Linked DNA regions of Homo sapiens: region 1 is linked to region 2. Evidence: fine-mapped expression QTL. A gene starts in region 2. The other region holds a variant in brackets. All regions are shown on one strand. Distances are between the middles of the regions.

Region 1 (5,378 bases), 74 kb before region 2:
TATGTCCCCACCCAAATCTCATCTTCAGTTGTAATTCCCCAGTGTTGGAGGTGGGCCCTGGTGGGAGGTGGTGGGATCATGGGGGAGAGTTCTCATGAATGGTTTAGCACTATCCCCTTGATGCTGTTCTCATGATAGTGAGTTCTTGTGAGATCTGGGTGTTTAAAAGTGTGTAGCACCTCCCCCTTCTCTCTCTTGGTCCTGCTCCTGCTACATAAGACACCTGCTCTGGGTTTGCCTTCTGCCATGAGTAAAACCTCCCCAAGGGCTCCTCAGAAGCAGATGTCGCCATGCTTCCTATACAGCTTATGGAACAATTACCCAGTCTCAGGTATTTCTTTATAGCAGTACAAGAACGAACTAATACACCCCTCTAGTTTGGGTACAACCTTGACCAATAGTCTACAATCTATTTAAGTTTCACTATGAATAGCACACTCTATGTAAAATAAAGCAGAAAAAGGAGAAAGAAGTTTCAACTTAATTAAAATATATAAACTTATATTCATTCAATTAAAAAGAAAAGAAGTGTTATTCATTTTATATATTCTACAGAAAAACTATCAATCAAGCTGGAGAAATTTTGATCCATATAGAATCTTTGTGTTCTATTAAAATGTACATACATAAAAACACACTTTAAAACTTTTCATTTCCTGGTTAAAATTTTAGTGATAACTCAAATATAGTTATAGTTTATCAACAGAAACATAATTCTGAACTGCATTTTGCTCTTGATAGAATGTTATGTTTTATTGGGATTTATGAACTCATTATTCTTGTAGATGATTGTCCTGCCAGACCTCTATCGAGTTGGATAGGGATGGCACCGCGTTCAAGAGGCCGAAGGAGAACTGGAGCCAGCAAACAAGACACGAGGTTTACTGAGGTTTATTCTTTTCTCTACAGGTTAAAGCTGGAGTGCACCACTGAGATAACACAATGTGGTCTGACGCCTCCTATACTGATGAGATTAATAAGATTAATACAATGAAATTAGTTTCCCAAAGCCACATTGCTTGCATCAGCAACCATCATTACTCACAGATCTTGCCCTATTGTAATCTTGGTCAGAGATTATAACAGTTGAAGCAGGTTTGAGGACTACGAGGCATAATCCCTCTATAAAGAATCTTATCCTGTCACAGTCCCGCTATCTCCATGTCTGACAACTTCACTCTATGGAGAATACTGTGGTCTTTTTTTTTTTTTTTTTGTTTGAGACAGGCTTACTCTCGTTCAGGCTCGAGTGCAGCGGCTTGCTGTATCCTCCGCCTACCGGGCCCAAGCAATCCACTCGCCTCAGCCTCCCGAGTAGCTGGGACCACAGGTACTTGCCACTGTGCCTGGCTACCTTTTTTGTATTTTTGGTAGAGACGGTTTCCCCCATGTTGCCCGGGCTGGTCTCACACTCCTGAGCTCAAGTGATACGCCCGTCTCGGCCTCCCAAAGTGCTAGGATTACAGGTATGAGCCACTGCATTCAGCCTTTTTTTAAACTTTATTTCAACTTTCTCTTTTAAAGTCAAATACTGTGGTGTCTGCATTGGAAATGTATGGCCCAGTGACCACAATAACATTAATAATGTCTTATTTTTTAGAATGCTTCAAATATTTTATTTAGAATCATTGAATTTTGGAGTGGAACGGTGACTTACATATCCAGTCGTATGGTTCTCAATCTTGGCTGTTTAGTGTAATCACCTGGGGAGTTTAAAAACCACTGATGCTGATTAAACCCCACAGATTTCAATTTAATTGGTGTCAGGTGTGGTCAGGACACTAGCGGTTTAAATATCCCTAAATGAGTCTAATATGCTGTCAGGTGTCTCTGATATCATCTAGCTACTACTTCCCTCTCCACATTCATTTTATAGATTAAGGGAGGCTTGGAGAGTGTTTGCCTTGCTCATAATCGCCAGCTGGTTAATCATATTTAGTTTGAAACATCAGTTTAGCCCCCTTTTCCTGATAAGGACCAGGACCAGTGGGTGAACTTGAGATTTTCACTTGCAGGACTGCCACAGGCTAAATTGGGACAGTTGGCAGCACCTGTCCTTGGAGCTTCTAGAACTGCCACAAAAGACAAGACTCATTACTGAATCAAAACATCTCTGTGAGGTTGGCGTGAATTACCTCCAGTTTATAGGTGATGAAACTAGTGTTGAGATAGGTTTTCACAAGTCACATAGTTATATTGGGAAACTTTTGAACAAAATCCTGCTATAATTACCTCTAAAGTACACCTAAATTATCTTCTTTTATTTTTAGGAATCATATCCCTTGTCTTTGCACTTAAAACTTAATTGATTCCCAGCCTTACTCATAAACTGAATGAAAGGAAACAGTCTTAAAATAAAAAGAGAAATGCATTATTGTATGAAGGTATAAACACTTTCACCCTTGCGGCCATTTCTGGTTAACAAGGTTTTTTTAAAATGCCAATAATTTATTTATCATGGCATTCATATAAGAGGATTTTTCTAATGGGAAATATTAACTGGCATGAGTAAAATGCATGAGGTTGTATGTAAAAGGATCATACACAAATAACTGCATTTGTTAATCCTATTCTGAGAGCGGGAGGTAATTATGGCTTCACTGGGAAGGCTTGCCTGAGTAAGCATTGACCAGTCAGCCTGCTGACATTTGGAATCCTGTTGGCAAAACTCTCCTGTCACCACCAGATGTGAACCCCCTGGCATTGAAACGGGGGGGTTATTCAGAAGAACA[A/G]TGACTCTGGTTGATGACAGGGGGGTGAGTGCACAAAAAAGGGCCATCCCTTGACTGCCTAATTCACAGTGACTCATGCTTTGACCTCTGAGGAAACAGTCACATCTTTCACACTGTTGCTTCTAACTTCTTTTTATTGGAAGCCTAATGGTTATTGAAAATGTTCCACTGGGGGCACATTCTTCAGCTGTCCAGTCTCTCACCAGTTGCTGACCAAACCCAGAAGCTGGTGGGAGTGCTTCTCTTTCAGCCCCTGCGGATATCCCTGGCCATCCACCTGTGGCTGGACAGTCCCTGTGCCTGCTGTGTGGGGTCACTGTAATTCCTTAGAGTCTTGGAGATCTGACAAACTGCCCATAAAACGTGCTGCCCCACCCATTGCCTTTCTTCGGTAAAGGTTAAAGGAACAGGGGGTAAGAATTCTCTCTCCTTTTCACTGATGTTATTGATTTCCAGAATGTAACAAAAATATATCTGATAGATACATAAATATGTAGGTAATAAATACTAGTTCTCACCCCTCCCATTTCTCTCTCTCTCAGCAAATAAAAAAAGATTGAAAGAAAATACACCAAATTGGTAAATAGTGGTGGAGGTTTTTTTTTAATCTACTTTGTTACTGTATGTTCTAATATATAAAACACATATTACTTATATTTACAAAAATAATATGTGAAATATATTTTACTTATATTTACAAAAATATGTGAAATATATTCTACATATATTTACAAAAATAATTTGTAAAATGTTTTTCTGGTATTGGTGTAAACAATCCTATCTCTTTGATCTGTGGCAGTCTAATTAGCTAAGGCACTGATTTACCTTACAACCAGGAAGATGGGTTAAGATATTGCTGCTATGAAAAGGCAACATCCAGGATCCTGGTGGTGATGGAATGTTCTATATCTTGGCTTTATCCATGTCAATATCTTGGTTGTGACATTGTACTATAGTTTTGCAAGATGTTACCATTGGGGAAAACTGGTTAAAGGGTATATGGGATCTCCTGTTTTATTTCTAACAATTACATGTGAATGAACAGTTACCTCAAAATAAAAGGTTTCCTTTTTTAAAAGCCCATAAAAGATATTGCTCAGCTATTTCTTAGGTACATCATCATTACCCATCTTAGAGTCATTCTGCAGGTGAAGATTTAATATTCTCTCCCAATGATTTTGATAGTACAAATTTTGTTGCATTGTCTTTAATATTTTAGGCCACAGAGATATATTTCAAAATAACTGTGAACACCTGAAAGAATAAAATGAAAATAAGCATTTTTGGGAGGCAATTCTCTGTGGGTCTCCAGTGTGTCTGCACATCTTGTGAGGCAGACATTGACCACCCTTTGATCTGGACTCTCTCTTCACGGAGGTTTGCTTAGTGAACCGCCTTAGGAGATAGAATGTCTCTGTTTAGAGCAAAGGGCGGGTATGCTTGTTGTCCACCTAAAATGTAGGTTCCCTAAGCTCAGGGTTCCTCTCCTAGAACACAACCCAAGATGTCATCTGGACCTCTTTGTGTCACCCTGTAGGAATTGGGGACCAGGGAACCTGTGAAAAAATGCTGATACTAAGGCTACTTCTAGTGCTGTAATAAATGGTCCCTTAGCATCTATGAAACTGTACCAGGCTAACTTGTTAACTTGTGAGTACGCTAAAATCTCAGACCCGTCACAGTTCTTGACAATTCTGGAGATGAGGATGGGAGGCTGACGGAGACGTGGCTGCTGGAACAGGAAAGCAAGGGTCTTGTAAGTGAGATAATGGGACCTAATGGAGCCCATGGGAGTTGGCAGAGGCATGTTGACTCCATTTTGTGGTCAACAGGACAATCAATGGTCTTCCACTTCATTGCCTGTTTATGAGGAGAAATCGGGAAGCTGGTTGCAGGCTGAACACCAGGAAGTAAATTCAAAGACAACTCCCCAACTACCTTGGTTGTTGCTAACTACCCTCCAGATGGAGGGCTTCCTTGCCAATCTGAGAGCAGCCTCAGGTCCACCCCATTGTAACTACTAGTACCAAGATTTGTTGTGGGTGGGCAGAAGGTTCTTCTGCCTTTTGAAATAAATGATATCAGCCACAAGGACATTGCCATCCAATGTGGAACCCTGTGAATGCCAAAGGCAATGCAAGTTCATTGGGCTGGAGTAATGAGCCATGCTCTACAAAAGTAAATGCAAAGCTTTTTTTAATGGGCAGAGCCACTCTCTCCTTCATGACTCATTGCTTTCCTCCTCCTCTACTTCAGCTTAACCACTTTAATGAGAAAAACAATTAGAGGTGAAGCTAAGGTCTCCCTGGTCCACATCAGGCCTCAAAGGTCATACTCATCTGTCCAAGTGTGCTGGAGATTTGAGGGGAAAGGAGAGACTTCCAATTTTATGGATCTATTAGATACCTATTAGATACAGGTCCCAAGTCACTGTCCTCTCTGGTCCTGTGGAAAGAGAGAATTCCCAACTTAACCAATGGAATTTGGGCAAGATTTGCAGTGGAGAAGGAAAGCTACAGTGGCCTTGTGCCAGAGCCCTTTGAGCCAATTTATGTGTGCTGTTGTGGACTCCACTGCTGAATGCATAATTATTATTAATGTTTTACATCCTTGTATTGTAACTGTCTAGAGGGGGTTCTCCTGATT
Region 2 (5,378 bases):
TTATTTATTTGAGACAGAGTCTTGCTTTGTCACCCAGACTGGAGTGCAGTGGCGCAATCTCGGCTCACTGCAACCTCCACTTCCCAGGTTCAAGCAATTCTCCTGCCTCAGCCTCCCAAGTAGTTGTGATTCCAGGTGACTGCCACCATGCTTGGCTAATTTTTTTTTTTTTTTTTTTTTTTTTGTATTCTTACTAGAGACAGGTTTTCACCATGTTGGCCAGGCTGGTCTTGAACTCCTGACCTCAGGTGATCCACCTGCCTCGGCCTCCCAAAGTGCTGGGATTACAGGTGTGAGTGACCGTGCCTGGCCTATCCCAAACTTTTTTAAGACCCTGGGAAGAAAGGACTTTGCCCAGAATAACTGCCTGGGTGATTCTTGGCAGATTATGATAATGATGCTATCTGACTTTAATAGAGATATACAGATTACAAAGAACCAGCATGTTGTCTCATCTAGTCATCCCACAACACTCTGAGAAAGATATTTTTTTTTTCAACCATTTGACAGAAAATGGCTCAGGAGGTTAAAGTAACTTGCCTAAAACTTCACTTTACAGCTGGAGTAACTAAAGCTAATAAAAGTGTTGTGTTCTAAAAACTATAGAACATGCACCAGGGGCATTCAAAGAACTGCAGCCACATCCCAGATAATATTCATGAGATGTATGCCAGATTCTTCGACCACTGCAGTCTTGGGACACACTGTCTTCAGTTCTTTGAAAACGGGTGTGGCCAGGCGCCGTGGCTCACGCCTGTAATCCCAGCACTTTGGGAAGCTGAGGCGGGCAGATCACCTGAGGTCACAGGAGTTCGAGACCAGCCTGACCAACATAGAGAAACCCCGTCTCTACTAAAAATACAAAATTAGCTGGGTGTGGTGGGTGCCAGCCTGGGCAATAAGAGTGAAACTCCGTCTCAAAAAAAAAAAAAAAAAGAAAAGAAAAGAAAATGGGTGTGACTATTGATTTTCTTTTGCCAGGAGTTTCAAGAGCTGCACCATTCTATCTATGACCTTGTGTGCTGCTCTCTAAAAATACATAGGAAACCAAAATAAGAACACAATAAAAACTGTCCCTTGCTTTCGAGTAATTACATGATTAACAGTTTCTTCTTTCCCTTGGGAAGAGACACACTGCTTTGCTTTGCCTAGGGTGGGGATATGACGGTCCTGTGCAAAAGACAGGGCCTTGGAATGGTGCAAAGAGAACTGGACTTGGAATCCAGAGAGCTGGGACTGAGTCTTGGTTCAACATTACTTACTGTGTGACCAGGGGAAAGTTAACCTATTTGAGCTTCAGTTTTAATAACTGCAAATAATCCCTATCTGTTTATTGACTGTAATCTTCTGGTCAGCCTCATCTTCATCTATCTGCCCAGTTCCACATGCAGAACTAAGTAGTAACTTTCAGTTTGCAAACTGGACTAGAAATTCTCCATTCCATTCATTCCTTCCGTCGTCTTTCTCAGCTCAAATGCCCATGTATTTGCTCACTTCTAATGGAAGGGGAAGTGGGCTATTATTTTTGGTTTTCATACATTATGACTCTCAGCATATGAATCTATTTAGAACAAGGCTGAGAAAAGATGACATAGAGGGTTGCTGAGAGAATTGAACTGATGCATGAAAAATGTTCAGCACAGTGCCTGATTTACAGTGAGTGATCATTGTTAGCTGTCATAATTTTTTCAGGCTTATGTGATCCTTATGTCTTGAATGGTTTAGCTGTGGCCCTAGCTGGAGACTAGAGGATAAACTGAGACTCCTCGTCAAATCATAAACCTAGTTGGTGGCTGGGCAGAGATTTCTTGCATCATCTGTTGTAACCCTTTCTTCTTATAACCACCTAGTTTCTGCCCACCTTTGAGGAGGGGTATTTGGGATAACTTTTTGTAAATTGATGGTAAATGCAAATATAGTAATGTCAACTTTAGATCAGTGACAAAATTTTAACTTGCTTCTCCACTAAATCGAGACTGAAAAACCTCAAAACCTATGGACAAGATGTTTTTCAAAACTCCACTTCGGTTTACAGGTGTGTGCTTGGGGCAACCAAAACAAAGATTACTGCGATGATGGCAGCCACCCAGGCTCAGATAAAAGAGGCGCCTCTCAGCGTGCTTTGCGGTGCCAGCCCACCTGAGGTCAGACTCAATTCTCCCCACTTAGGGCAGGGATAACAGAGCCCCCGAGCCTGGGTTGGAAGTCCGTACTACCGTTTTCCTAGTCTTGGGCTTTGGGGTCAGCGGTCCTCCAGGCTTGCTCCGGTTTGGGTCCTGGGGTGACTGATGGCTGGGTGCGGACAGGTGGCCGCGGCACTGTCCCCATCGATTCACCACGCCGCTCTCGGCCCTAAGGGGCAACACTTCGCTCCGACTCTACCAAGTAAGTGTCCGGGGTGGGCAACCAGACGCAAAGCGCAGCGGGATCGGTTCCCGCCAGGGCTGCTCCCGCCGCCTCCGCGGACCCAGCCCCTCCCGCGCCGCGACTCGCCCAGCCTGGGGAGGAAGGGTCCGTCCAGGGCTCCCAGCCCCGCCGGGGGGAGGAGGAGGCGGCGGGACCCTGTCCCGGGGCTTCTTCCTGCTTCCCCCAGCCTCCACTCCCGCCGCCTTCCCGTCCGGTGGCTCCATTTTTCAGGCGCGTTCTCCTCAGGGAGAAGGCGTCCGTCCCCGAGCCTTCCCCTCGTAGTCCCCTGGGGGCCCCGCTCCCCATCCTCTAGGCTCTTGCAGCGCCCCCTCAGGCCGCCGCCCCAATCCCGCCCCCGGGCTCCGGCGGGGTACTGGGCGCAGGTCACCTCAGCGCGGGAGGCCGGCGCGGCGGCGGGTGGCTCCGAGAGGTGCCGCGCCCGCTCCCGGGGAAGGCGCTGTGGCGCGGGGCCGCCCCCTTGCGCCCCGGGCGCCGGCTGCGTCCCGGCCTCCTCCTCCTCTTCCTCCGCCCTCCTTGGCTGGGAAAGTGGGAGGCGGCGGCGGCGGCGTGGTGTGTGTGCGCGCGTGAGGGGGGCAGCAGAGAGGAGTCTCCCGGTGCCGCCGCGGCGTCAGAGACACTGCGAGCGGCGAGCGCGGTGGGGCCGCATCTGCATCAGCCGCCGCAGCCGCTGCGGGGCCGCGAACAAAGAGGAGGAGCCGAGGCGCGAGGTAGGGCGCGCGGCCGGCGCGGGGTCGACGGGGACCCAGCGTCGGCGGACCCCTAGCCGCGGAGAAGGCGGTGGTCTCGACATTCCCCCATCCCCGCCCTGGGTCGGTCTCTCTCTCCCCTCGCCCTCGGGTCCCCGTGGGCCGGGAATCAGGACCTGCGGAAGCGGAGCAGCCCGCGGCCTCTGCCTTCTCCGGGCAGGAAGCTGCCAGGGCTCCGTGCCGCGGTCTCCCCGGGCGCAGCCCAGCACCCCCTGCTTCCCGGATGGCGCGGTCTCTCTGGGGACTGTCGCCTTATCTTGGCTGGGCTAGAAAGCTGCTTCCCCGTGGCACTCTGTGGGGCTGAGTTTCGCAACTTAAGCCTGCGCATTTATTTTTAAGTCCTTGAAAACTTCCCGCAGTCGTGTAGAGGGATTTGTGTCCCCGGCCTGAGCTAAAGGGAGGCGGAGATGAGGGAGGCTGTAGGGTGAGATCCCCACGCCGGGACCGGCCGGGCCGCAGCCCCAGGCCGCGACCGGCTCCTGCCGGGTGCCGCCGACACCTGGCCCCGGGGTGTGTCTGCGGCGAGCGGCCGCCGCGCCTCCCTGCGGGCTTGGGAGTACCTGTGCTTGGCGCCGTGGGAGCGGGGGTGCAGCCCTGGGGCTCCCCCGCTCCGGCTTTGTCAAGAACAGCTGTTAATGCTCCCAGCCAAATCTTTTTACTCCCGTTCTCCTGGGCATTCACTTTTACATTTATTTTGGCGGTGGGGGGAGAGCGGCGCAGTAAGTGGCTTGCTTTTTCCTGAATGGCCTCATTTTCATATGCCCACAGTTTCCAGTCCAACCTTCCATTGTCGAATTCTTTTGGTGATAATTTTGCCAGCTTTTCTGAATGGGATTAGGACAGGCCGTTCAGAAATGTGTTTCAGAGTTTATCAACTACTGCCCTGAAGGGCGCTTTTCTGTTTTAGCTGCTTTCAAGCAAATCTGTGTCTTTTAGAATTGTCAACCTTCAGCTCTTTTTGGTTGGGCAAAATTAAACAGTTCTATTTTTAATAACAGCGAAGAAACATATGTATTTAATATTGGGATCATTTACCACGAGCGATTACATGAGGCATGGTTTCTTAAACGCTAAAGTGGCTTAAAAAAGGGAATTTAGTTGGATATAAAAGTAAATTTCAGGTAGAGGAAACTTTCAATGGCCTCTGTCAGCTTCTCCTATGAGTTGAAGACTTTATTAAGGCAGCTGATACCACTTTCAGAGCTTAAGAAATTATGTTCCTTATTGCACTTCATAAATCCTTCTGCGGGAATTATGTAATACTCTGTGCCTTGTGTTTGCCCAGTGAATCCCTAGATATCTTTAGGGGTTAATTTTGCGTTGTTTAGAAAGCCTGTTTTGTTTTCAGTTGTTGACTTTGGAGTTTAGGAACCCACATTCCAAAGCAAAGCTACACTATTCAGACAGGGAATAGTGTACTTTTGGGTACTTTTTGATTCTTGGCTCCTTTGAACTTTTTCCCTAGATAACAACACTCATGTTCTCTTTTCCCCCTTTTCCCCATGACTCTAGAGCAAAGTCTGAAATGGATGTTACATGAGTCATTTTAAGGGATGCACACAACTATGAACATTTCTGAAGATTTTTTCTCAGTAAAGTAGATAAAGATGGATGAATCAGCCTTGTTGGATCTTTTGGAGTGTCCGGTGTGTCTAGAGCGCCTTGATGCTTCTGCGAAGGTCTTGCCTTGCCAGCATACGTTTTGCAAGCGATGTTTGCTGGGGATCGTAGGTTCTCGAAATGAACTCAGATGTCCCGAGTGCAGGACTCTTGTTGGCTCGGGTGTCGAGGAGCTTCCCAGTAACATCTTGCTGGTCAGACTTCTGGATGGCATCAAACAGAGGCCTTGGAAACCTGGTCCTGGTGGGGGAAGTGGGACCAACTGCACAAATGCATTAAGGTCTCAGAGCAGCACTGTGGCTAATTGTAGCTCAAAAGATCTGCAGAGCTCCCAGGGCGGACAGCAGCCTCGGGTGCAATCCTGGAGCCCCCCAGTGAGGGTAAGTAGCCTACAGAGGTAGTTTGGTGAATAAAGGTGGTAATGTCCACATTTTTTCTTTATTCTTTAGCTTGGTGTTTTCGAAGTCAACTCATTGCTTAGGAAACCATACATACTGGAACAGATAGATTATACCTCTGAATATTTTTTTCCCCCATCTTGGAATGAGATTGGATATAAATAATAAATTTTATTGTTTTGAAAAT

Direction of the effects. Alleles are on the strand shown, and positions count from the first base shown. SD is a standard deviation of normalised expression in the study named.
In carriers of allele G in region 1, the expression in spinal cord of the gene that starts at base 3,037 in region 2 tends to be lower than with A alone (large effect, 0.88 SD a copy in GTEx).

Evidence for each region. PIP is the estimated chance that this variant, and not a neighbour inherited with it, causes the effect.
Region 1: its variant is fine-mapped to the expression of SH3RF1 in spinal cord (GTEx, PIP above 0.99). The same link has a PIP of 0.9 or more in putamen.

The regions. Positions count from the first base shown.
Region 1 is chr4:169,342,945-169,348,322 of GRCh38, reverse strand. No RefSeq gene overlaps it. Among named protein-coding and RNA genes, the nearest start is that of SH3RF1, 75 kb to the right of the region's middle. The variant A/G (reference allele first, on the strand shown) is at 2,733.
Region 2 is chr4:169,268,615-169,273,992 of GRCh38, reverse strand. SH3RF1 (SH3 domain containing ring finger 1) reads left to right here and starts at 3,037. Exons shown (of 12, transcript NM_020870.4): 1 at 3,037-3,134; 2 at 4,686-5,173. The coding sequence starts at 4,781. RefSeq lists silencers at 2,407-2,556, 2,597-3,356, 3,597-3,816.